Linked DNA regions of Homo sapiens: regions 1, 3, 4 and 5 are each reported to be linked to region 2. Evidence: microRNA targets listed by miRTarBase, many of them from high-throughput screens and not tested one by one. Region 2 holds a microRNA gene; each other region holds the end of a gene's coding sequence.

Evidence for each region. The annotated mature microRNA hsa-miR-4438 reads CACAGGCUUAGAAAAGACAGU and lies in region 2 at 2,981-3,001, opposite strand. An mRNA with a match to its seed (bases 2 to 7 or 8) in the 3' UTR can be bound and repressed. Matches are read on the target gene's strand: a 7mer-m8 pairs with bases 2 to 8, a 7mer-A1 pairs with bases 2 to 7 and ends in A, and an 8mer does both.
Region 1: miRTarBase lists SIGLEC10 as a target of hsa-miR-4438. Seed matches in the 3' UTR shown: 7mer-A1 at 605-611, 7mer-A1 at 740-746 and 7mer-A1 at 1,031-1,037.
Region 3: the mRNA of PARD3 is a reported target of hsa-miR-4438. The part of its 3' UTR that is shown has no 7-base or 8-base seed match.
Region 4: the mRNA of TCHP is a reported target of hsa-miR-4438. The part of its 3' UTR that is shown has no 7-base or 8-base seed match.
Region 5: the mRNA of POLR3F is a reported target of hsa-miR-4438. The part of its 3' UTR that is shown has no 7-base or 8-base seed match.

The regions. Positions count from the first base shown.
Region 1 is chr19:51,406,427-51,411,532 of GRCh38, reverse strand. It overlaps SIGLEC10 (sialic acid binding Ig like lectin 10), which reads left to right. Exons shown (of 11, transcript NM_033130.5): 11 at 162-1,513. The coding sequence ends at 434. Among named protein-coding and RNA genes, the nearest start is that of SIGLEC10-AS1, 6.7 kb to the left of the region's middle. RefSeq lists enhancers at 2,083-2,583, 3,601-3,650.
Region 2 is chr2:213,756,017-213,761,122 of GRCh38, reverse strand. MIR4438 (microRNA 4438) reads right to left here and starts at 3,056; the gene lies at 2,964-3,056. The region is part of intron 10 of SPAG16 (sperm associated antigen 16); the gene reads right to left.
Region 3 is chr10:34,107,132-34,112,217 of GRCh38, forward strand. It overlaps PARD3 (par-3 family cell polarity regulator), which reads right to left. Exons shown (of 25, transcript NM_001184785.2): 25 at 2,430-4,431. The coding sequence ends at 4,038. Among named protein-coding and RNA genes, the nearest start is that of LINC02629, 210 kb to the left of the region's middle.
Region 4 is chr12:109,916,159-109,921,264 of GRCh38, forward strand. TCHP (trichoplein keratin filament binding) reads left to right here. Exons shown (of 13, transcript NM_001143852.2): 13 at 433-1,911. The coding sequence ends at 465. Among named protein-coding and RNA genes, the nearest start is that of TCHP, 18 kb to the left of the region's middle. RefSeq lists a silencer at 1-197 and an enhancer at 4,294-4,794.
Region 5 is chr20:18,483,262-18,488,367 of GRCh38, reverse strand. It overlaps POLR3F (RNA polymerase III subunit F), which reads right to left. Exons shown (of 9, transcript NM_006466.4): 9 at 3,722-4,887. The coding sequence ends at 4,810. RBBP9 (RB binding protein 9, serine hydrolase) reads left to right here. Exons shown (of 5, transcript NM_006606.3): 5 at 1-1,828. It also overlaps the pseudogene RPL21P3. Among named protein-coding and RNA genes, the nearest start is that of RBBP9, 11 kb to the left of the region's middle.

The DNA.
Region 1 (5,106 bases), not on the chromosome of region 2:
GCTAATTATTGTCTGTTCCTCCTTCCAAGATGGAATGCAAGCTCAGCAAGGCAAGGGCAGGGACTTAGTTTCACTCTGTGCTGTAAATCAGTGCCCGACGCGTGGTAAGTGCTCAAATATTTGCTGAATGAATGAATGAAGGATGGTGGTTCTTCCCTCAGGCTCAGAAGCGGAATCAGAAAGCCACACCAAACAGTCCTCGGACCCCTCTTCCACCAGGTGCTCCCTCCCCAGAATCAAAGAAGAACCAGAAAAAGCAGTATCAGTTGCCCAGTTTCCCAGAACCCAAATCATCCACTCAAGCCCCAGAATCCCAGGAGAGCCAAGAGGAGCTCCATTATGCCACGCTCAACTTCCCAGGCGTCAGACCCAGGCCTGAGGCCCGGATGCCCAAGGGCACCCAGGCGGATTATGCAGAAGTCAAGTTCCAATGAGGGTCTCTTAGGCTTTAGGACTGGGACTTCGGCTAGGGAGGAAGGTAGAGTAAGAGGTTGAAGATAACAGAGTGCAAAGTTTCCTTCTCTCCCTCTCTCTCTCTCTTTCTCTCTCTCTCTCTCTTTCTCTCTCTTTTAAAAAAACATCTGGCCAGGGCACAGTGGCTCACGCCTGTAATCCCAGCACTTTGGGAGGTTGAGGTGGGCAGATCGCCTGAGGTCGGGAGTTCGAGACCAGCCTGGCCAACTTGGTGAAACCCCGTCTCTACTAAAAATACAAAAATTAGCTGGGCATGGTGGCAGGCGCCTGTAATCCTACCTACTTGGGAAGCTGAGGCAGGAGAATCACTTGAACCTGGGAGACGGAGGTTGCAGTGAGCCAAGATCACACCATTGCACGCCAGCCTGGGCAACAAAGCGAGACTCCATCTCAAAAAAAAAATCCTCCAAATGGGTTGGGTGTCTGTAATCCCAGCACTTTGGGAGGCTAAGGTGGGTGGATTGCTTGAGCCCAGGAGTTCGAGACCAGCCTGGGCAACATGGTGAAACCCCATCTCTACAAAAAATACAAAACATAGCTGGGCTTGGTGGTGTGTGCCTGTAGTCCCAGCTGTCAGACATTTAAACCAGAGCAACTCCATCTGGAATAGGAGCTGAATAAAATGAGGCTGAGACCTACTGGGCTGCATTCTCAGACAGTGGAGGCATTCTAAGTCACAGGATGAGACAGGAGGTCCGTACAAGATACAGGTCATAAAGACTTTGCTGATAAAACAGATTGCAGTAAAGAAGCCAACCAAATCCCACCAAAACCAAGTTGGCCACGAGAGTGACCTCTGGTCGTCCTCACTGCTACACTCCTGACAGCACCATGACAGTTTACAAATGCCATGGCAACATCAGGAAGTTACCCGATATGTCCCAAAAGGGGGAGGAATGAATAATCCACCCCTTGTTTAGCAAATAAGCAAGAAATAACCATAAAAGTGGGCAACCAGCAGCTCTAGGCGCTGCTCTTGTCTATGGAGTAGCCATTCTTTTGTTCCTTTACTTTCTTAATAAACTTGCTTTCACCTTACCGCCTCGTCTTGAATTATTTCTTGTGTGAGATCCAAGAACCCTCTCTTGGGGGGTCTAGATCAGGACCCCTTTCTTGTAACACAGCTACTTGGGAGGCAGACGCAGGAGGATCACTTGAACCCAGGAAGCAGAGGCTGTGGTGAGCCAAGATCACACCACTGCACTCCAGCCTGAGCAACAGAGTGAGACCCTGTCTCGAAAAAATAAAAATCCTCCATGGATAGGCCATCTCATCCCAGACCTGGGCATTCGGAACAGCCTGACAAATCTGTCCTGAATGGCCTTCTCTGAATATGGTGTTCTGAGAAGGCAGGCAAAGATTTGCCTTTGACACACCCCAGCTCCAGTCCAGAGGACTGCGCAGTTTCATGGGTTCTCAGAGATGGGAGGGTCTTTAAAGATGACTAGATACAGCCAGGCGCAGTGGCTCACGCCTGTAATCCCAGCACTTTGGGAGGCTGAGGCTGATGGATCGCTTGAGGCCAGGAGTTTGAGACCAGCCTGGCCAACATGGTAAAACCCCGTCTCTACTAAAAATACAAAAATTAGCTGGGCGTGGTGGTGCGCAACTGTAGTCCCAGCTACTCGGGAGGCTGAGGCAGATTTGCTTGAACCCAGGAGGCCGAGGTTGCAGTGAGCTGAGATGGCGCCACTGCACTCCAGCCTGTGCAACAGAGCGAGACTCTGTTTAAAAAAAAAAAAAAGACTAGATAGGCTCCTCAGTCACCTCCAGCCTGCTGCCTATTTTCATACCACCTGCAAGCTAGAAATGTTTTTACATTTAAATGCTTGGGGAAAAAGTCCGAAGAAGAAGACTCTTCTGGGGCCCCTGGGAAGGAGATGAAATTCAAATTTCAGTGTGGTGCCCAACCATGCTCATTCCTTTACACATTGCAGTTATTTTCATGCAGAGTTGAGTCACTAGCCTGCAAAGCCTAAAATATTTACCATCTGATCCTTTACAGAAGTTGGCTAGATCTTAATCTACATAAACTCATTTGTTTTCACAGAAGAGGAAGCGAGCGCAGAGGTCCATAAAGAGTTCAAGAGTAGCCGTGGGAAAAATGACTAGGTCTGTGACTACAGGAAGGTTTTCAGGGTGAGGATTGGAAGGGCAGGAGACTGCATGTGGATGGGGTGCTAATGCGCTCTCAGACCCACAAATCTAAAGAAGTGCAAACGCATGCGGGGATGGAGGTTGGAATGCTTTGGAAATGGAACAATGACAAACTTACAACATGCTAAGAATCACACAGTGGCTCACGCCTGTAATCCCAACACTTTGGGAGGCTGAGGTGGGCGGATCACCTGATGTCAGGAGTTCAAGACCAGCCTGGCCAACATGGTGAAACCCCGTCTCACCTAAAAAAATACAAAAATTAGCCAGGTGTGGTGGCGGGCACCTGTAATCCCAGCTCCTCGGGAGGCTGAGGCAGGAGAATTGCTTGAACCTGGGAGATGGAGGTTGCAGAAGCCGAGATCATGCCACTGCATTCCAGCCTGGGCAATAGAGTGGGACTCCGTCTCAAAAGAAAAGAAATAGAGCAAAGGAGAGCACTTTGCTGGCCATCTCCTCTGCTGACCTCTGCTCCTCCATAGCCACCCAAGGGGCCTTTCTTCGGTAGTTATTGCATCGTTGGTGACATGGCAAGGTGGCCCTCTCTGGTGTGTTTTGTTTCCTGGCTGTGCTAAACACTCCAGATACTGAAAAATAAAAAATTAAAAACTGAGCTGGACACGGTGGCTCACGCCTGTAATCCAGCACTTTGTGAGGCCGAGGCAGGCGGATCACTTGAGCTCAGGAGTTCGAGACCAGTCTGAGCAACAGAGCGAGAGCCTGTCTCTACTAAAAATACAAAAATTAGCCAGGTGTGGTGGCAGGTGCCTGTATTCCTCAGCTATTCAGGATCCTGAGGCATGAGAATCGCTTGAACCTGGGAGGCAGAGGCTGCAGTGAGCTGAGATCGCGTCACTGCACTCTAGCCTGGGTGACACAGCGAGACTATGTCTCAAAAACAAAGAAAAAACCTGAATTAGCTGCAAGGACCAAAGTTGGCCACCAGACGTCGGTATACCCAGGATGATAGGACTATAGACTCATGGTGTGGAATGGGATCACCCAATGCAGCCACCTCATTTTACAGAAGGACTTCAGAGAGGGACAAGGTCTTGCATGTCACACAGCTGAACTCCAGAGCTGGGATTCAAACTCAGGCCCAGGATGGGTGAGCACTGCTGGTTACACAGTCTCCTTTAAGCTTAGAGTGGGAAGGATGCTGCAAGGGCTTGAGAAAAAGGGAACTCCCTACAAGCTGCACAAAGACTGAGACTCTGCTTCCTTCCTTCTACCACCAAATTCTGCCATGAGAGCAACCCTTGAAGATCTGTTTGACCTGGGAAATTACAAGATTGCATTGCTAAGGCACCAGGTTTGACTAGGTGTCAGTAACTTTGAAATGTGTGTGTTAAGGTCCTGACTTCTGCAATAGTGACTTGGGACTTGGAGGGAGGGCATTGTTATCCAGTACTCTTGGGGAAAGGCAATGTTGTGCAAATGAAAACAAACAAACAAACAAACAAAAACACCAGGCTTGGAGTCAGAAAACCCAAGGGGAACTTTCCGTATTGCCAAATATTCTTTTTCTTTTTTTTTTTTTTTTTTTGAGACAGTCTCGCTGTCGCCCAGGCTGGAGTGCAGTGGTGCAATCTTGGCTCACTGCAAGCTCCGCCTCCCGGGTTCATGCCATTCTCCTGCCTCAGCCTCCCGAGTAGCTGGGATTACAGGTGCCTGCCACCGCGCCCAGCTAATTTTTTGTATTTTTAGTAGAGACGGGGTCTCACTGTGTTAGCCAGGATGGTCTTGATCTCCTGACCTTGTTATCCGCCCGCCTCGGCCTCCCAAAGTGCTGGGATTACAGGCATGAGCCACTGCGCCTGGCCCCCAAATATTCTTTTTAACCAGTCAACTGGGACATTAACTGCAGGAAGTATGAATATAAAATAGTTATATGTTTTCTGATCACTGAGTCAATCATGTTTTTTTGTTTGTTTGCTTGTTTGGTTTTCGTTTTTGAGACAAGAGTCTTGTTCTGCTGCCCAGGCTGGAGTGCAATGGTGCGATCTTGGCTCCCTGCAAACTCTGCCTCCCGGGTTCAAGCGATTCTTATGCCTCAGCCTTCCGAGTAGCTGGGACTACACGTGTGCGCGCCACCACACCCAGCTAATTTTTGTATTTTTACTACTAGAGATGGGGTTTCGCTATGTTCACCAGGCTGGTCTCCAACTCCTGACCCCAACTGCTTTGCTTGCCTCAGTCTCCCAAAGTGCTGGGATAACAGATGTGAGTCACCGTGCCCAGCCTCCTCTGTTTCTTGATATGAGAGTTGTGTCCCCTGCTTCTCCCATACCTTCTCCAATTCCACCATTGGCAGACACCATGCAGCCTCTTACCGCTTTCTTGGGTGACATATCACCTAGATTGCAGAAGCCCAGCTACCCTCCTTCGTGTCCATCCACCCCCTGCTATAGACAAAATGTATGTGTCCTTCCAAAGTCTAGGTTGAATTCCTAACCCCCAATGTAATGATATTTG
Region 2 (5,106 bases):
TATTTATATTGATTTCTAACTTCATCCTTGCTATGGTTTGAATATGTCCCCCTAAAATTCATATGTTGAAAACTTAATCTCCAATGCAACAGTGTTAGGAGATGGAGCCAAATAAGGGGTGAGTGGGTCATACAGGCAGAGTCCTCCCATAAATCCTGCCATAAGGACTAAAACTACTACTGTCATTATTGAAGTAGCGGGGTAGTTATAAACAAGTTCAGCCCCTGATGTCTGTCTCTTTCTCTGTTTCTTGCCATCTAATGCCTTCTGCCATAGGATGTCCCTTGCCAAATGTTGGCACCATGCTTCTGGATTCCTCATCCTCCAAAACTGTGAGGAAAAAACATTTTTATATAAATTATCCAGTGTGTGGCATTTTGTTATAACAGCAAAAAATGAACTAAGACAATCTTCTTAGGATCAGAGAAGATACTTTCTATAACTATCTTTTCAATCTAATGAGACTTAATTTATGAAGTAACATATAGTCTATTTTGGAAAATGTACCATGTACACTTGAGAAGAATGTGTACGCTGTTGTTGCACAGAGTTAGGTCTAATTGTTTTTTTTTTAATGTATTGCATTTTCTTATTTATCTTTGTTTTTTTTTTCTAGCCATTATTGAGAGTGATTTATTCATCTTCAACTATTACTGTGGAACTGTGTATCATTCCCTTCCATTATGTAAGTTATTTCTTCATATAATTTAGTGATCTGTTACTAGGTTCATAAATGTTTATACTTGTTATAACTTCTTACTGTATTAAACCTTTTATTAATATAGAATGTCCTTCTTTGCCTTTTGTAAACTTTTTGATTAAAGTCTATTTTGTCTGTTCTCAGTATAGCTACCCTGCTCTTGTTTGGTTATTTGCCTGAGAAATCTTTTTCTGTCCCTCTACCTTCAATCTATTTGCATCTTTGGATCTAAAATGAGTCTCTTGTACACACATAGATCTTTTTTAAAAAAATCTATTTTGCCAGTCTTTTGATTAGCTCATTTAATCAATTTATAAGTAATTTCTGAAAAGAAGGAAGCTACTTCTGTCATTTTACTATTTTTGAATTCTTTTTTTTTTCTTTTTTTGAGACAGAGTCTTGCTTTGTCACCCAGGATGGAGTGCCATGGCACAATCTTGGATCACTGCAGCCTCCGCCTCCTGGGTTCAAGTGATTCTCCTCCCTCAGCCTCATGAGTATCTGGGACTATAGGCATGTGCCACCACACCTAGCTATTTTTTGTATTTTTAGTAGAGACAGGGTTTCACCATGTTGGCCAGGATGGTTTCGATCTCCTGACTTCATGATCCACCCACCTCGGCCTCCCAAAGCGCAGGGATTGCAGGTGTGAGCCACTGCGCCCAGCCACTATTTGAATTCGTTATAGCTTATAGATGTTTCCCTACATTTCCTGCATTACTATCTTTTATATTTAGTTGTCTATTTTATTTTCTTTAGTGATTTGCTTAAATTTCTTTCTCATTTCCTTGTATATAGCTATTTTCTTGGTGGTTACCATAGGGATTATATTTTAGATCCTGCATATATAACATTCTAATTTAAATTTGTACCACCATAACTGCAATAATATATAAAAACTCGGCTCCTTCAAAAGCTCCATTCCCCCACCCTCTCAATTTTTGATGTCACAAAATTATATCTTTATGTATTATACAAAAATATAAACATGTAAGTATTTTAAATTCATTAGTCTCTTAAATTATGTACAAAACAAAATTGGAGTTACAAAGCATAATATGAACTTTTATACAAATTTAAATATATATATATTAACCTCTTAAAGCATGTAGAACACGAAAAGTGCAGTTAAAAAGTATTGTTACAATAATATAAGCTTTTATAATTTTCTATGTATTTTCCTTTATTAAGATCTTTATTTCTTTACACAACTTCAAGTTACTGTCTAGTGTCTTCTCATTTCACTCTGCAGGAGGATTTCTTGCAAGTCAGGTCCAATGGTAACAAGCTCTCCCAACTGTTGTTTTCCTGGGGATGTCTTAATTTCGCCCTCACTTTAAGGACAGTTTGGCTGGATATAAGATTCTTGTTTGATAATGTTTTCTGTTTTTGTTTTTCTTTAGCACTTCGAATGTCAGCCCACTGCCTTCTGGCCTGCAACGTTTCTGGTGAGAAATATACTGATAATCTTACTGATTATTCCTTATAAGTAATATATTGATGTTTTTCTGCTGCTTTTAAGATTCTATCTTTGTCTCCACCTTTTAAAGCTTTGATTATAATGTATTTCAGTTTATGTCTTTTTGAGTTCATCTTCCTTGAATTCTGTTGGATTTCTTGAATGTTTATATTAATGTCTTTTATCAGATTTGGAAAGGTTCTATCCGTTGTTTCTTCAAGTTTTCTCTTCTCTTTCTCCTCTCCTCCTGTGACTCCTTGATTGTGTCACACAGGTCCCTTAGACTCTGTTTACTTTTTTCAATTCTTTTTCCTTCTGTTCCTTGATTTCCATTGTCCTATCTTCAAGTTTACTGACTGTTTCCTTTGCTTGCTCAAATCTTCCTTTGAATCGCTCTAGTAAATTTTTTATTTAAGTTGTTGTACTTTTCAGCTCCCAATTTTTTTTAACTTCTTGTGAGGTTTCCTATCCATTGAATTTTTTTCATTTTGTTCATATATCATTTTCTTGACTTTCTCTATATCTTCCTGTAGTTCTTTGATCATTTAACACAATTATTTTAAAGTCCCTCTGTAGCAGATCCACCATCAAGTCATTTTAGGGATTTCATATTTTCCTTTGGACAAGACATAGTTTCTTAATTTTTTGTATGAATTGTGATTTTGGATCTAATAACATAGTAACTCTAAAAATTAGATTCTCCCTCTTACTGAGAGTTTGCGGTTACTTCAGTCAATGATTTTGCTTTTTATATTGTCATAAGAGGATTCTGTTGTAGGCTATCTCTGTGCCAAGAATCAGTCTGAAGTGTAAACTTAAAGACTGTCTTTTCTAAGCCTGTGCCAAAGGAAAGGCAAGGCACAGGCTTAGAAAAGACAGTCCTTAAGTTTACACTTAGTAACTTAGTCATTTTCTGATTGTCACCATATGTGCAGTTACTTTGAATGCCCTACTTTTTAATGTCTAGCTGTCAAAGGGGGAAAAACAGAAAAATAAAGTAGGAGAAGGGCACTGGCCCTTTTAATCTTCTGGAAGTCACTTCAGCCAGCAGGGAGGGGCTTGCAATAATGGATAGAGGTGCAACAATAACCACTCACCTCTTTGCGTCCATCTTTGTGACCAGAAACAGCAATCAGCAATCAGAGCAAAGATTGCCGATATTTGGATGACAGGTCCTTTTTTTGCCCACTCTGGTTCCTGCATGCTCTGTGCAGACTGCTCCAGTAACATGTGCACAGCTGCCTGCTACAGGGGTGACTGTGGGAAATGGGTAGCTACTACTGTGGTTAAGTGCTGAAATTGACTGAAATTAATCATAATTCGCCATGCAAGCTTTCCCCTAGAAGTTGCAAGCCTTTAGTAGATGTCAAAAATCCAAAATAGTTATATATCAGACAGATTCTGCCAGTACAATTGTTCTCTAGGTGGGAAGACAGATTCCTGGTGCTTCCTACTCCACCATATTTCTATAACTATTTCTCCATAATGTTTTAACTACTGTAATTTTGTAATATCCTTTGAAGTCAGGAAGTGCAGGACCTCCAGCTTGTTCTTTAGATTGTTTGGGCTCTTTTTGGTTCTCTGCGGTTGCATATGAATTTTAGAATTGCTTTTTCTATTTCAGAAAAAAAAAACAGCTATGGGTATTTTGATATGGATGGTATTTAACCTGTGGATAGCTTTAAGTAGTATGGACAACAATATTAAGTCATCTAATTCATGAATATATATGTCTATTTATTACCATCTTTATTTTCTTTAGAAATGTTTGTAGTTTTCAGAGAACAAGTCTTTAGTCTCCTGTTAAGTTTATATTTCTATGTATTTTTGATGCTATTTTAACCCAATTTTTAAAAATTTCCGTTTCAGATTTATGTTAGTATATGAAATCACAACTGATATTTGCATATTGATTTTGTGTCCTGCAACTTTGCTGAATACATTTATTAATTCTAGTAAGCTTTTTTATGTGGAATATTTAGGATTTTTTACATTCCATTTCTTTATTCCCTCTTTGCTCTATAAAGACAACACCATAAGGGTTTCATATGCTAAACATTCAAAAACACTTCTTTAAAAAAGCTATCTACTATCAACTGCCTCAAAGCCATCATTGAGATATTAGCTGAATATAACAGTTATTACATCATTTAATTTCAGTGTCAAAGCTTTACTTTCTTCATATAAAAAAAAACTATTTGAGTGTCTTTTTAAATAAATACACATGCATACCCACACATATCCTAGGCCGTTAAATTTTAATTGGCCTGGTATACATTAGCCATTTAGGGGGTTCCCGCTCCCAGAGATCCCATATTAACATGTTTGGAAAAGTCTGGTATTTGCATCTTTGTAATGCAGTGGCTATAGACAAGCAAAAGTTAAAGTCTACAGCTACAAATCCAAACCTATGGTACACCAAAGATGTATAAGCAAAGGCCTTGCTCAATTAGTCTAAAGATTTATCTGGGCATAGATTTTTATTTTCTGTCACCTAGGCTGGAGTGCAGTGGTGTGATCTCAGCTCACTGCATGCAACCTCTGCCTCCTAGGTTCAAGCAATTCTCCTGCCTCAGCCTTCCGAATAGCTGGGACTACAGGAGGATGCCACCACACCTGGCTAATTTTTATTTATTTATTTATTTTTTTGAGACGGGGTTTTACCACGTTGGCCAGGCTGGTCTTGAACTCCTGACCTCAGGTGATCCACCTGCCTCGGCCTCCCAAAGTGCTAGGATTACATGCATGAGCCATCGTGCCTGGCCCATAGACTTTTTTCTTTTTTTTAACACCTATTGGATTGCTAAAATTACTTATGTTTAAATATTTTAACTCCTCTGTGGAAGGACACTACTTTGATTTGTTATGTTCACTCTGACTGATATCTGAGGCTGGCCTCAGGGGTCTGCAGATCTAGTCCTACTCAGCCATTTAAGTAGCTGCATAA
Region 3 (5,086 bases), not on the chromosome of region 2:
CAGAAAATTCACTGGGTTTACCCTCTCTCATTGGATCTACTGGACTTCATTGGCAGAAACCCAGAGAAGTTGGGGTCCTGCTCTCCGCCTGTTCTGGGACAGCCCTGTCAATTGTGGGGTGCTTTTGTAACCCAGGGTCCCCGGGTTTTCTGGCAGCCTGTGGAAAAGTGCCCACTGGTAACTGTTGCACCCTGAGTTCTCCTTGTTTCACAAAAATTCCAGGAAGCAGCCCAGACCCAGCAAAATAAAAACTAGTTGGATCCAGAGGTGCCTAGTTGGAGGGAACTTTGGTGAACTCTTCTCCTTACTGCACTAAACACTCCGCCCAGGGAGGAACTTATTTGCCATTTTCTACCCATGCGAAGGATGTAGAAGCATGATCAATGACTGTCCCTGCACCAGCCTTACTCCACCTCACAGGGGTGGCCAATCTTTTGGCTTCCCTGGGCCACGTTGGAAGAAGAATTGTCTTGGGCCACACATAAAATACACTAACGATAGCTGATGAGCTAAAAAAAAATTTTTTTAAATCGCAAACAAAAATCTCATAACATTTTAAGAAGGTTTACGAATTTTTGTTGGGCCACATTCAAAGCCATCCCAGGCCACATGTGGCCCTTGGGCTGCAGATTGGACAAGCTTGACATATGATGACTCAGCTCAGCTCACCAGCCCGATAAAAGCTGTTTTCACCTCGTTCAGGGAGGTACTGCTTTTGGGAACTATCCCTGGCATCCTCCTCACGCGTTGCCAATAATGAAACCCTTGGTGAACTCCTCCTTAGCTGTGGTCATTGGACCATGAACCGCCAAGTGATTGAACCCTAATACTTTGACCTTTGAGCTGCCGTCGGTCTGACCACAGAAAGAGAAGGTGGATGGCAGTGCTTCAATTACATATAATATAGATATGCTATGCAGTATTATTTTTATAATTTCTAATACAAATGACTATATACTGTCTTAATGGACTTAGAAATGATGCCATAGTGGAGACCATCTTTCCCAAAGGACAGGTGAGTTCCCCTACCTCCATCCTCATCTGAGAGTGGGCTCCAGGGTCTCCCTGGCTCCCCTTTCATGCAATTTTTGCTGGGCAGATTCCAGTGCCCATCTTGACAGCACCCGGGCCGGCTCCGCCTTGGGACACGCCCTCCCAGGGGATACCCTTGTGTCTTAGCAAAAGGTCCTGAAGCCAGGAGGCTGGTCCGCTGAGTCAAGGTTGCTTCATGGAGCCTATTTTGACTTCTCTGTGGACCATTCCTACTTCTCTTCCCAGTGCCGCTCAAACTGTCAGTTTCAACCCACAGGTCCCTTTGTGACTTGGGTCCCCACAACATGTGATTATTGCCTCTCCTACTCTGCTGTCCGCTGTCAGTTGAGACAAATAAGCCATGTGTTTTGGCATTAGCAATGGGCCTCCTGCTCAGGGAGAAAATGAACAAACCTGTCCATCTTCCCTTTTCACTTCCCACACCTGGCATGCTTGAAAGAACCAAGGAGGTGGTATTGCCTCGGCTTGCCATGCACCCCTCATTCCTAATCTCGAGGTGATAGAATTTGGATGTAGTGACAGGATGAGCGTTGCTATGACAACCCACTGATGCTAGGTGCTCCATAAGAGGGCATTTTTGACAGGTCCTCGCAAAGTCTGCCATTTGTGTGGGGACCAAATCTCCTATATTTGTGCACTAGACATACCTAGGGACATAGCACCCTTTATGCCTTCAAAATGCCGCATGCATATTTGTGGGCGTCCCTCTTAAAGAAATAGCAAAGCCTTACTTTGTAATTTGGGAAATAAGAACCAGGTTTGTACTGGAAGTGGACTCGAATCTGGACCTTTCTCTGGGCTCACAGGACTCAAGGCCAGGACTCAATCAAAACATCTGGCTTGCTAGGATGATTCCAAGGGTCCAAAGGGCAGTCATGGGACTATCATGTCGCTTTCTGCATAATTTTTCATTCATTTAGTTCGAGCTGTACTGGCTCCTTCAATTCAGAACTCCTCAGGCTTCTTCAGGCAGCCTGGGCCTTGCAGTGGACTCATGAAGGTTCTTGTCTCTCCCCTTCCCCTCTCTCCTCAGGTGCTCAAATACGCAATCAACCACCAGTTCCTGTGTTTGCAAACTTCCCACTTTGAGACTTCCAACTGTAAGACTGTATATTGTCTTAATGGACTAAGAGTGAGAATGATGTCATAATGGGGACCATCTTTTCCAAGGGACAGGTGAGTCCCCCCTCTCCATCCTCATCCAAGAGTGGGCCCCAGGGTTCTCCTGCCCCCTTTCCTGCAAACTTTCCTCAGATGTGAGGAAACTTCCAACTTTCTCTAAATATAAAAAAAAAAAAAAAATCACATCTGTTAATAGACCTTTTAAAAAAGCCCAGCTAGGCAAGGCTGCCCAGGAACACCAGAGACACCAAAAGAACAGGAAGAAATATGCCTTTTATTAGGAGTTGCATATGTACAGAGAAAGCTGTTTCTCACAGCTCAGGGGAGGCTGTGAGAAAGAGCCACTGTCATCCAAGGTCACTGCGCGTACACTGGTAACACCACTTAGACACCGCCGCACGTGATTAAGAAACAGAACCATGACACAGAAATGCAGAAGAGACACGGGTACGTGTGTGGACACATCATTTCTAAAAACAAGTCAACACAAAAATACAATGTGCCAATAAAAAAAAAATAGACATATCCATACATGTCTTTTTTTCTGTTTTTAAAGTAAATACATGGTATGCTGAGCTTTCACCTCCAGCTTTTTCCACATCGGGATTCACAGGCACTTTAGCACCCCAGCCATGGTTTACAATACAGGATGTTCAGAACAATGAAGGAAGATGGGAGCCACCGAGATCCCCGAGACCCACACACACACTCTAATACTGACGCGAGAGTGAGCTTCCTGCCACCACCGCTGTGGGACCCGAAAATGTTCTCTGTGTGATGTGTAACGGCTTTTCCTTTGTCTTTTATGTTTCATGGCAGAACTACTTAGGAGCGCGGCATCGCCAGTCAGACATGCAGTGTGTGGATGCATTAGACAAGCATCAATTGCCTCTGACTTGAAAAACCGTAGAGAGCAGATCAAAATGACTGTCTGGTTTATCTCTGTCCCATTCTGTGCCCTTCCTGACAAGCTGTCAGAACAAAAACTAATTAAAATAATTACTAGGATGTACTGGGCCATGAGCTCTTCCTAGGAGAATTTCTTTCTTAGCTCTCCCCTCATGATAGACACAGGGCCAATGGCAGGCCCAGCTTCCCCCGGCAGGAGCCACTCCTGTCTCCCACGTTCCCCACACAGAGCTGTGGTGACTCAACCCACGTGTCAGGAACAGGACCGAACAAGCGTATGTATAAACGCAGACCAGGATCATCACTTTATTGGTAATGTTGAGTCATAAGGCAGTTACAAAAGGACCCCCATGGTGACCAAACAATGTTGGACTATGGCTTAGCTTCTGTAATAGGATGACCGACTCTCCCGTCACAAAGAGCTGAGAAAGGAAAGAGAAAACCACAGTGATGACAAAGTACGACAAATGGCTGTGCTGTGAAGTACCAGAAAGCCCCAATTTTTGGTGTATGTCGCCCACTTTTCCTCCACCAGAGACTAAGATGTCATCCCATAGCTAAGAGAACTTAGAGGGAGAAACAGGGCCGCACGTCATCCTCCACTTCAGGTGAATTTGTCACTGCAAGTGGTGCAGGGATGTTACAACCAAGCCGCGGACAACTCATGAGTAGGGCCGAGATTCCTGGTACTGTGGAGAGGCGCAGAGCATATGAACACCTCAAACAGATGATTGTCACAGGGTGGGAAATCCTTCCATGAAACAGACACTTGAGACATAGTGGCAAAGACATTAAGGCCTTCCATTTCTTTGCCTACACCGCTTAAAGGCACTGATACCAACAACAGAAATACTCCATAGTACCATCGAGGTTTTAAAAAAACTCCCAAAATACAAGTCTTCATAGGAAAATGTCTTTTATTGCGCGACATGAAGCATCCGTTATTTGCGTGCTCAGGAATAGAAGGGCCTCCCTTTCTCAGGAGTCTGAAGTCTGTTCAGCCTCGCAACCTGAGAAGGGGAGGGGGGCACATCTTGCCGGAAGGGCCCCTTGGGAGGGGCGTAACTGGGGTCCTGGACTTTCTTATACGAGTCATAGTTGCTGGGCCCCTCGGAAGGAGGCTGCTTCTTCATCTGCTGCTCCTTCCGCCTCTGTTCCTGGCGAAGGAGCTCCTGAGTTTCCAGCATGACCCTGGCGTTGAAGCCATGTCCTCCCAGGTAGCCGTTCCTGGAGCCTTGGTAGCTGGAGTACCTGGGGTTCTCTTTGGCACTCTGGAAGCCTTCCCCAGGGGAGTAGTTCTGCTCCCAAGAGTCCTGGGAGACCGAGCTGGCATTTTTCCTGCTTTGCCTAGAAAGCAAAACCCAAAGGTTAGTGTGAGGGTAGGAAGAAGGAGGGAGAGGGAGGAAAGGGGGCAGGATGGGATGGAATATGCATTTTCACTTTTCAACAAATATTCCTGTTCTCTCATCACATGCCAGACACTGCGATAGGGGCTGGAGAATTCAAAAATGACTGTCCTCAGCAAGCGCATAGTCTTAGACAACTAAACTAACAACGAGTAAACAGGAGAGAGAACTAGACTGTGCAGCTATTTAGAAACAGGGTCATCCTCCTGTGTCTGAGAAGGTTGTGTCTGTTCTGCTTAGGGTACCAATATCTCCTGCAATTTAGACACACTGGCAAAGTATAGAAGTATTAGAGGTTTGGCAGCTTCCATGGTAGGAATAATTGCTCGCTTTAGAACATTACAATTCAATTCTAAACAAGCACAACAAATATTTTACACAGCTGCCACCATAATGCCAGAAGCGCTAGCTAATATGAAGTACATGTAATGGATTACAGTATGAGTTCGGTTATGAAAGATTTAAGTCTAGACTCCTTTATGATAAAAAATGCAACAGGCAGTCCCTTAAAGCTCTGGCTTTCAAGTTGTGTATGTCAGCAACTTACACTCTCCGGGATACCTGCTCATCCAGATTGGACGGAGAGTCCGGAAGTC
Region 4 (5,106 bases), not on the chromosome of region 2:
CCGGTGCCTAGAGTGCATTCCCCAGGACACATGCTGCAGAATGAGGGCTGGCTCCCTTGTGGTCAGATGACACTGGGAAACTGAGTGAAACATAATTAGAGCAGGTGCTGCGTTTGCCATAGGCCACTCGCCCTCAAACACTGACTGTCACAGTCACAGGGAACAGCATTTCCTAAACCCACTTGGCCGTGGATCAGTGAGAGTGTCAGGGTCAGGGTTTCACAGATCATATGTGAAAGTGTTTCTTAGGGCTAGTACTCAAAACCAAAAAGATATCAAGTGCCTCATTTATGGCTTAGGGTCAGATTTTTTCAGCTGGAAATGAAACAGCCATTTATATTGTTCTTTTAGCTTGTAGTTAAAACAAGGTTAATTCCTCATGCTGCAGATACTGCTGATCTGATCACTCTTATGTTTTCTTTCTTTTCTCAGCCTTACGGACATCCAAAAATTGCTTGGAACTGACTTCATGGGTACCATAAGTACAGAGAACAAGGGATGCTGAGGCTTCTGATCCCAGCCGCCAGGCAGTTTTACAGGGCTCTGTTAACAGTAAGTGCCCGGGGCACTGTCAGATGGCTCAGCAGTGCCTGCTCAGGTTCATCATTGAAACATCCCAGTGTTTGGCCAGACATTAAGGTGTCGTGAGAGTCCCTTTCATGCCTTTCTTACCCAAGCAAGGGTCTTTGATGGGCACGTGTTTACAGCGCTGCTGCATAGTCTTGTAATATATTAACAGTCACATCAACTGAAGGTCAATACTAAGAGCCACAGGTTGTACCTGTGATGGGGCGTGTGGTTTCCTGTTGTCTCACCTTTAATTGTCAACCTCCAGTGTTGACTCTAGAAATATGAGGAAAGCTTTTCAGTTTTTAAAATTGCCATTTAAATTTAGTCTATTAAAAACAAACCTAGAGGTCTTGGTGCAGTTGATTTCAGAGTTTATTAATTTAGTGGTCCCAAAAGTATTACATCTTTTATATTCTGGAAGAAAAGAACTGTGAACAAATTAGAACCCCGGAACACTCTGACGTCCATGGACGCATTCCAGAAAAGTGGCAAGAGATGAGTCTTTCCTCCTCCAGGAAGCATTTTGGTAGAATTTCCATAGAGCATTGTCTGTGAGTGACTGATCCCAACATGTATGTTACTAAGCCCCAAAACGAACTTCAAACTGGGTGTGGTGGCACGTGCCTTTAGTCCCAGCTACCCGGGAGGCTGCGGCAAGAGGATTGCTTGAGCCCAGGAGTTCGAGTCCAACCTGGGCAAAAGAGTGAGACCCCATCTCTAAAACCAAAAAGGTACCTTAGAAGGTCACCTGGTTGGCTAACCTTTTAAAGGCAGGGGCGTGACACGTAGGACACATTGGGAATGTCTTGGCTACTACATGTAGCCTTCTGGGATATATGTGCCCAGAGGGAGAAGCACTGAGCCTGAAGAAACTAGATGAGTCTCAGAACCACAGACCGGCCAGAAATCTCTCCCACCATTATATCAGCGTGATACAGGTCTACATTCATTTCTACAAACAGGAACAAGTTCCTTGCAGCAATAATATTATTTTATGACTTGTATTTTTACTATACCCTTCCTCTGAGGTTTAGTTTTCATCACATTATGTTCAAGATTCCATATCTCCGTAAATTACAGCTAATTACAGGGCATTGTTCCATGGTTATTAAAAATCAGAGTTTATTAAAAATCCTGAGTCTTAAGGGCTGTCTTACCTTTCACTTCCACTGTCCTGTAGAAACAGATCAAGCTGCAAACCACGTCCTTCATCTGTTGTTCATTTTCTTGCAACTCTTTGACTCTGATCCCCTGAGCAGCACGTTCATCACGCATGCTCTCTGTTGCGTTCCCCATTTCAGATGTCCAGTAATGGTGAAATAAAATCCTGCTTCGACAGCATGGCTTCCTGGCTTTGTTACGGATTTTCTGATTGACTGCCGTTAAGTGCATTGTTGGTGACAGGCTTTTTACTGATTTAATCCACATCTCCCACATACAGGCTTGGCTATTTTCTATGACTGATCACGTTTTATAGGTTATATTCATTTTTCTTAGGAAAGTGGTTTCTCCCTTCTTTCAATTGGAACCACAGTGAACTGAGTTTAAACCTTTTTTTTTTTGAAACACGGCTTTGTTCTGTCACCCAGGCTGGGGTGTAGCAGTGCAATCTCAGCTCACTGCAACCTCCACCTCCCAAGTTCAAGTGATCCTCCCACTTCAGCCGCCCCAGTAGCTGGAACTACAGGTGTGTGCCACCAGGCCTGGCTAATTTAGTAGAGATAGGGCTCTTGCCATGTTGCCCAAGCTGGTCTCGAACTCCTGGGCTCAAGTGATCCGCCTATCTCAGCCTCTGAAAGTGCTAGGATTACAGGCATGAGCCACTGTTCCTGGCCTGAATTTTTTTTTTTTTTTTTTTTTTGATACAGAGTCTCACTCTTGTTGCCCAGGCTGGCGTGCAATAGTGTGATCTCGTCTCACCGCAATCTCCGCCTCCCGGGTTCAAGTGGTTCTCCTGCCTCTGCCTCCCGAGTAGTTGGGATTACAGGCGTGAGCCACCACGCCTGGCCAGTTTTGTATTTTTAGTGGAGACAGGGTTTCTCCATGTTGGCCAGGCTGATCTCGAACTCCTGATCTCAAGTGATCCACCTTCCTCCTCTGTCTCCCAAAGTGCTGGGATTACAGGTGTGAGCCACCACACCCAGCCTAATTTTTTGTTTTTGAAGCCTGGTGGTAATCATTAGCATTAAAATTATGTTACACTGGTTCACTGCCCTAATTAAATGTTTCTGCTCTACACTGGTCCAAAATAATTTGTTTTCTAAACTTAAAGTTTCCACTGTCTTACTATTTCTACTGTGGCCCATACACCTCTGGGCCCAGGGTATTTGCATTTTGTATTTTTATTGTGTTGTAGTTACAGATACATATATGGGTTTTATTGTTGCTAAGCACCTTTTTCTACTGACTCGAAATGAGTGGTTTCTAGATTATTCTTTGGCAGTTTCTTCTACAAAGGTCCATTCCTTTGGTACAGATGGTGCTGAAACCACTGCTAGGAAATGCTTCTTGCACTGGTATAGAAGTGATGACTTGGCTGGGCGCAGTGGCTCACGCCTGTAATCCCAACACTTTGGGAGGCCGAGGCAGGCAGATCACGAGGTCAGGAGATCGAGACCATCCTGGCCAACATAGTGAAATCCCGTCTCTACTAAAATACAAAAGGTTAGCTGGGCATGGTGGCGCTTGCCTGTAGTCCCAGCTACTTGGGAGGCTGAGGCAGGGGAATAACTTGAACCGGGAGGTGGGGGTTGCAGTGAGCTGAGATCATGCCACTGCATTCCAGCCTGGATGACAGAGCAAGACTCCGTCTCAAAAAAAAAAACCTCGCTTTCTGCTCCTCGCTTAGCACACGTTCTCTCTAGGGAAGGTACTAGGCCTGGGAAGTCACAGCTGACCATGAACAGTGACAAGAGTCAGACGCTCGAATCGGACACATGGATGAGCAGACGTCACTGGCAAACAGCCAGTTGTCACTCATGGGGCTGAAGAGATGTTTGTGCAATATGTACAGTCTATACATCCATATTTATGGATACGACTTTTTCATCTGGGTTTTTAGGTAGTTTTTGGTGTTCATAAAATATAGAGCAATCATTTAAAAGATATTGTAAAGCCTTTAAAAACACTGGCCTTAGCAGTTCTTGATGACCTCGACTAAATTCAGCCATGAAGCTCTGTGGAGTTGGATTTTAGGAAACTGATTTTACATTGTAATGTCTTCCTTTTAGAGGGATGTTTATGCCTTAGTATCACTCAAAACACAGTATCTACCTCAAAGGATACATGCGTGGTTTTTTCTGCAGGTAGCTGGAGTTTTTTACTGCTGTAAGAAACTGATTGTATAAATTCACTATCGTTCGTTTGTTCATTGTCACTTGTTTAGTTTCCAGTTTTTTCTATTAAAATGGAGTTGCTGGAATCCTCCGTGCACATAACTTCTAGTTCAGGTATTCTAGTTGATCTCCAGCAAAATGACTAGAAAGGGGCCACTTTCCATATTACAGCCATCAGGATCATGATGGAAAAGCCTGGATTTATGTCAGGGTACTGCCTTGACGCTGCCCTAGCGCTTTTCTTCTCATTTTCTCCCAATTAACTGCTCTAGACACTGCAGCTCCCTTTCTTCATTTCCCCACAACACTCCCTCTTCCATTTCCATATGGAAATGCTTACAGTAGGAGGCTGGCGGGCGGGGATCCCCCACGTGAGGGTGCTCAAGCTGTGCGGCACTGTGGTCCGTGCCGCTGACTCCTGGCTCCTGAGACAAACCAAGCATCTGGACCTAAGCAGCTGGGCCACCGACACTGGCTTCCAGTTCACATGTACAGCTCTTCTCTATCCATCGGGGTTGCTGATACACATGGGGTTCTGTGGATACTTTGCAGTTACTGTGGCCTCTGCCGGTCATAATGGAGCAGTGCTAGTTTTCTGGGCCCAGGCCTCACCACCCAGGCCCTCCTAGGTGATGTGAGCCAGGCCTCTGCCTTCTGCTGCCATCCTCACATCAGTAACTCCTGGCTCTGCAGCTCTAGTCCAGACTCTGATGTCCCTACCTCTCTGACATCTCCACGGTGTCTCAGAGGTGCCTCAAGCTCAGCATAGCCAAGACGAATGAGTGATCTCCCCCAAACCCCCATCAGAAAAAAAACCCCAGACGCATCTGGCCCTTCTGCAGTGTTCTCAGATAAGCGCCTGGTGATGCCATCTATCCTGCCAGTTGATTATGCCTTAGACCGAGGGCACCGGCTCCTGGTGGCCTCCTGAACCTTTGGCCATCCACTTTGCTCTTTAATGTCCACCCTTCATGTCACCAAGCCAGCCCATTTTTTTCTTCATCGTAGAGTCAGAGATCATTTACAAATAAACACCTGAAATGAGACTCGTCCACCTTCTTCAGTGGCTGCTCACTGCACTTAGTACCAAGAGCCAAATCCTTTCCTGGCCTACAAGGCCCTGTCCTGACCGGCCCTGCAGAGCTTTCCTGAAATGTACTGCTCTGCCTTCTGGCCCAGAAGATAGAAATACCAGATTGGT
Region 5 (5,106 bases), not on the chromosome of region 2:
GAGCCCAGGAGTTTGAGCCTTCAGTGAGCTATGATCGCGCCACTGTACTCCATCCTGGGTGATGGAGCGAAGAACCTGTCTCTTAAAAAAAAAAATTTTTTTTTAATTAAAAAAACCCACCCTTTTTCATTTCCCAACATTTTTTGGCTATTATGATCGCTATGTGTTCCTTCAAATAATTTCCAGTGAATCCACACTTGATGTTGCAAAGCCTAAGTTTGCTGCAGAAATACAATTTCCTACACTTCATACCTAAAGGAGATTCAGAGCTATCGCTCAAAACCAAAAGTCTTGGTTTTTAAATGTGCTTAGACAAAAAAAATCAGGAAAGGTACCCTAATCGTTCAACAGCAATCATCTTTGGGGAATGGGCATTTTGGTAGGTAAAGTGTGGTGGACGTCCTTATTATTATTTTTGAGACAGTGTCTTGCTCTGTCTCCCAGGCTGGAGGTCAGTGGCACAAATCTCAGCTCACTCTAACCTGCACCTCCCGGGTTCAAGTGATTCTCATCTCAGCCTCCCAAGTAGTGTGAACTAAAGGCATGTGCCACCACGCCTGGCTAATTTTTGTATTTTTAGTAGAGACAGGGTTTCACCATGTTGGCCAGGCTGGTCTCGAACTCCTGGCCTCAAGTGATCCACCCACCTCAGCCGCCCAAAGTGTTGGGATTACAGGCATGAGCCACCATGCCCGGCCCCTTATTTTACTTTATCCTCCTGATTATTTGAATTTGTTACACTAAGCATGTATTTTATAATCAAAAATAATTAAGATTTAAAACAATGTATTTGACTACTAAAAAGCAAATTATATAAATCAGTTGAATAATAATGTTGTTAAAGAGGCTGTTTAGCACTAATTTGACCAAATCTATAGTCAAAGTTTGATTCTACTTGAATTTTTTGGAAATTTGCTGTTGTATTACTTATTCTTTGCCTTGTTCTCTGTGAAGTCCTTTCCTAAAAAAGAAACTTATACAATTTAGTTCACAAAACTTTGTTGACCTCTTTCTCTGTAGAAATGAAAACTAAATATATATAATTGAGAAATAATTCTGATACTCTTCATTCCTATAAAAGTAATTAAGATAGACCTATAGGATTGTTGAACTTTGCTGCCAAATATAGTAACCAGTAACCACAGCTAGCTGTAAAATTGAAAATTCAGTTCAGTCAAACTAGCCATATTTCAAGTGCTCAACAGCCACTGGTGGCTATTGGTTACCTTACTGACCAGCCAATATAGGCTATTTCCGTCATTATAGAAAGCTCTATTGGACAACATTGGTCTAGGACATATATTTTGTATTTTCCCCTCACCCACCATCCAATAATGAGTAATAGCACAAAGTAAAAGTGACTTAATTTGAAATTACTTCTGTTTGGCTAGTTTGCTTAGCTGATCACCACCAACATCATAGGTCTATAAATCACCCAACTAAGATCAGGGGTGTTTCATGGGAAAATCTACACAAACTATTCATTAAAAACCATAGAGCCATGGACTGTCATTTCTGATTTCTGTTTGATTCTTTGTGGTCATCATTGAATATACAGGGGCCTCTATACACTCTGGGGAGTATCTATTCTCAGGTGAGCAAAATACCGAATACTGAATGGAAATCAACTGTAAGTATTAGGACTTCATATGCAACTTGAATTTTTGGTGCTGTCCGGAGTCTAGAGCCCCACAATCTGTTTTGGTTACAGTTTATCCCTGTAGGATAAATGATCCATTTAACTATTCATCAGAGGTGCTGTAATTTTAAATTGTCTCTTGTCTCCTTCAGTTAATTTTCAGAATTAAAAACATACCATGGGAAAAAAGCTTGAAGTTTCTCTTTATTGGTGAGGTAAGGAATACTTTTGTTTTAGCCATTGAATGTTAAGCTCTAAAAACCAATCTTTAGCTATAAAGACATAAGACAAAGTCTATATTTAAAACATACAAGCTGGTTTCTTCTCATTTCTAGCTCTCTTCCAAGTTCATTTTTCTTACTACATAAAACTAGTGCCTTTTTGATAGGCCAAGTCCCAGGAAGGACAGACATTGTTCTTACCATTCCAACTCTCACTGAGGGTGGAAGAGAAACCCTCTGTCTGTAGTTTCAGGTTCCCAGATCCTTCATATATATATATATATATATATATATATATATATATATATATATATATATATATATATATTTATATTTACATATATATATATTTATATTTACATATATATTTTTATATATATTTATATATATATTTATATTTATATATATTTATATATATAATTTTTTACAGTCCAGAGATCTTTTATTAACACTTATTATGCCATGAATTCATACGGAATAAGTTCCAGCAGCTCAGGCTCCTTCCCATTGGTTCTCACAAAGTGTGCTTCTCTGGGTGGAGCAGGCTGGCACTTCAGTTGAACCCAGGTAACTTTCTCTCTTTTTTTTTTTTGGAGACGGAATCTCGCTGTCACCAGGCTGGAGTGCAGTGGCGCGATCTCAGCTCACTGCAACCTCCGCCTCCCAGGTTCAAGCGATTCTCCTGCTTCAGCCTCCTGAATAGTTGGGACTACAGGTGTGCGCTACCATGCCCAGATAATTTTTGTATTTTTAGTAGAGACAGGGTTTTACCATATTGGCCAGGATGGTCTCGATCTCTTCACCTCGTGATCTGCCCGCCTGAGCCTCCCAAAGTGCTGGGATTACAGGCGTGAGCCACCATCCCTGGCAAACCCAGGTACCTTTCTCTTTGGCTTCTTTTTTTTTTCTGATCATTTTCCTCATGCATTTCAGGAAGCTATCTCGGCTCTTAGAGTGCTTCATGTGCTCAGTATGCACATTAATGCTCTTGGCAAGAATATTGCCCTTGTTTATTTACAACAATGCCAACAGCATGCTGGGTAACACTGTAGACTCTTCCAGTTTTGCCATGGTAACACTTGTGGGGCATTCCTTTTTGAACAGTACCCATTCCCTTGATGTCTACAATATCACCTTTCTTATAGATTCGCATATACGTGACCAAAGGAACAACTCCATGTTTTCTAAAAGTCCTAGAGAACATATATCGGGTGCCTCTCCTCTTTCCGTTTGTGTTCATCATTTTGGCAAATTACTGGAAGATGGGGGTTCTGGCCAAAAGGCTGTGTATCTTATATATGTATGTATATTCAATACTTGAAATAATTTTTGTTACAAAGAGCTAGTGTCATCAAATGCTAATTCACAGAATGTGGCCTGAATTTTATTTTACTGATACCATTTATCTTAAAATAACTCTTCTGATATCCACTTAGAGCATCTCCAAACTGGTATTAGAACCCAACCCTCAGTACTAGTGGAGCTTGAATTCCTTTCCATGGGTCCCATGTTTTTGGCTTGGATACAGAAACTTCTAAGTGGAGCTACAAAGTGAAAATATGAAGCTGCAATTCTAAAAAGCCGCACAGTCAACTTCTGTGCAACAATACATCAAATAACCTAGTGTTTTCTATGTGGCTGACCATAGGAACTGAAAGTGTTATTAGAACTGAGGACAATTATAATGGCTTTCTGCTTAGACACATCACACCATGATTTAGAACAGAATAAGGAAGGGAAATAAATCTAAAACAGAGTAAGAGAAAAAGAATGTTATCCCCTCTCTCAAAATAAAGTGTGAATGGAGGGCACGGAGTATATTTAGTTTCAGTTAATGCTATAACAGAATACCATAGACTGGTGGTTTATCAACAACAGAAATTTATTTCTCACAATTCTGGAGGCTGAGAAGTCCAAGATCAAGGTGCTTACAGATTTGTTTTCTGGTGAGGACCCACTTCCTGGTTCGTGGATGTTTGTCTTCTCCCTTTCACATGGCAGAAGGGGTGATGGAGCTCTCTGGGTCTCTTTATATAAGGGCACTAATCCCATTCATGAGCGCTGTTACTCTCCTGACCTATCACTTACCAAAAGCCCCACCTCCAAATACCATCACATTGGAAATGAGATTTCAACATTAGAATTCTGGGGGCACACAAACATTCAGTCTACTGCAGACATTAAATAAGAATCTAGGGTAAATTCTAACAAAGAATACATTTGAGTTAAAGAGTGAAACATAAGACTTTAAGAAAGAAGGAACAGTGAAAATATTCTTTAGAATGAAAATGATAGTATTTATGTACTGAAAATATGTCCTTGACAGTAGTCATTGGGTTTGAAGTAAGTATGGTAGCATAATCTCCTAAAAGAACATTTCTGATACAAAAAGGAATTAATATTGTGCGGAAAAGGCATGTTCCACTCTCCCCCAGTCATACCCCAAGTTTGCACTCTTTGCTATTCCTGCCTTTAACCCCTTCTAATTTCTTTTCAATGAAACCACTGAGAAAGTAGGAAACAGAAAATGGTGGTAGTGAACCAGATATAAAAAAAAACTTCCAATGAAGAACTTAATAAATAACTTTAAAAAGAACATTTTTATACTCTAGCCATTATCATAGTACTTGGTAAATACGGGTATGTTGGCATCTTTTTCCTTGACCCATCAGAAGTCTTGAAAGATGTGGTCCTCCGGAGTTTCAAAGTGTTTTATTTATTGAAGAATGAATTTCACTACTAACCTTATTTCTTTCATATTCTACTGGCTATTTTACCAATATAAATTTAGTCTTCATAAATAAAAAAAATATGTTTTCATAGCAGCAAGTCTACGTCCATTATTGTGAAGTTTGCTTTCAAGGAGATTTCGTGTTCCATCATGAATTAAATTATCTGCTCCCTAAGTAACTTCATTTGCAAAATGTCAATAAAGTTCATAGCTCTCTATTAAAATTCGAGCCACTCTGTCATGTAAATACAGTTAGATGGTGAAATCTCACCACCTTCGTGGCAGTCATCAAAAACCTTTAAAAAAGAAAAAAAAATTATATTCAAATTAAAGTTTTAAAATATCTAAGACCCAACCACTTATTTAAAGCAAGATTAAAAACAAAACTTTCAAACTGAAAGGGACTAGGACTGTACTTAAGAACATATTATAGCCGGACGCAGTGGCTCACACCTGTAATCCCAGCACTTTGGGAGGCCGAGGTGGGTGGTCAAGACCATCCTGGCTAACATGGT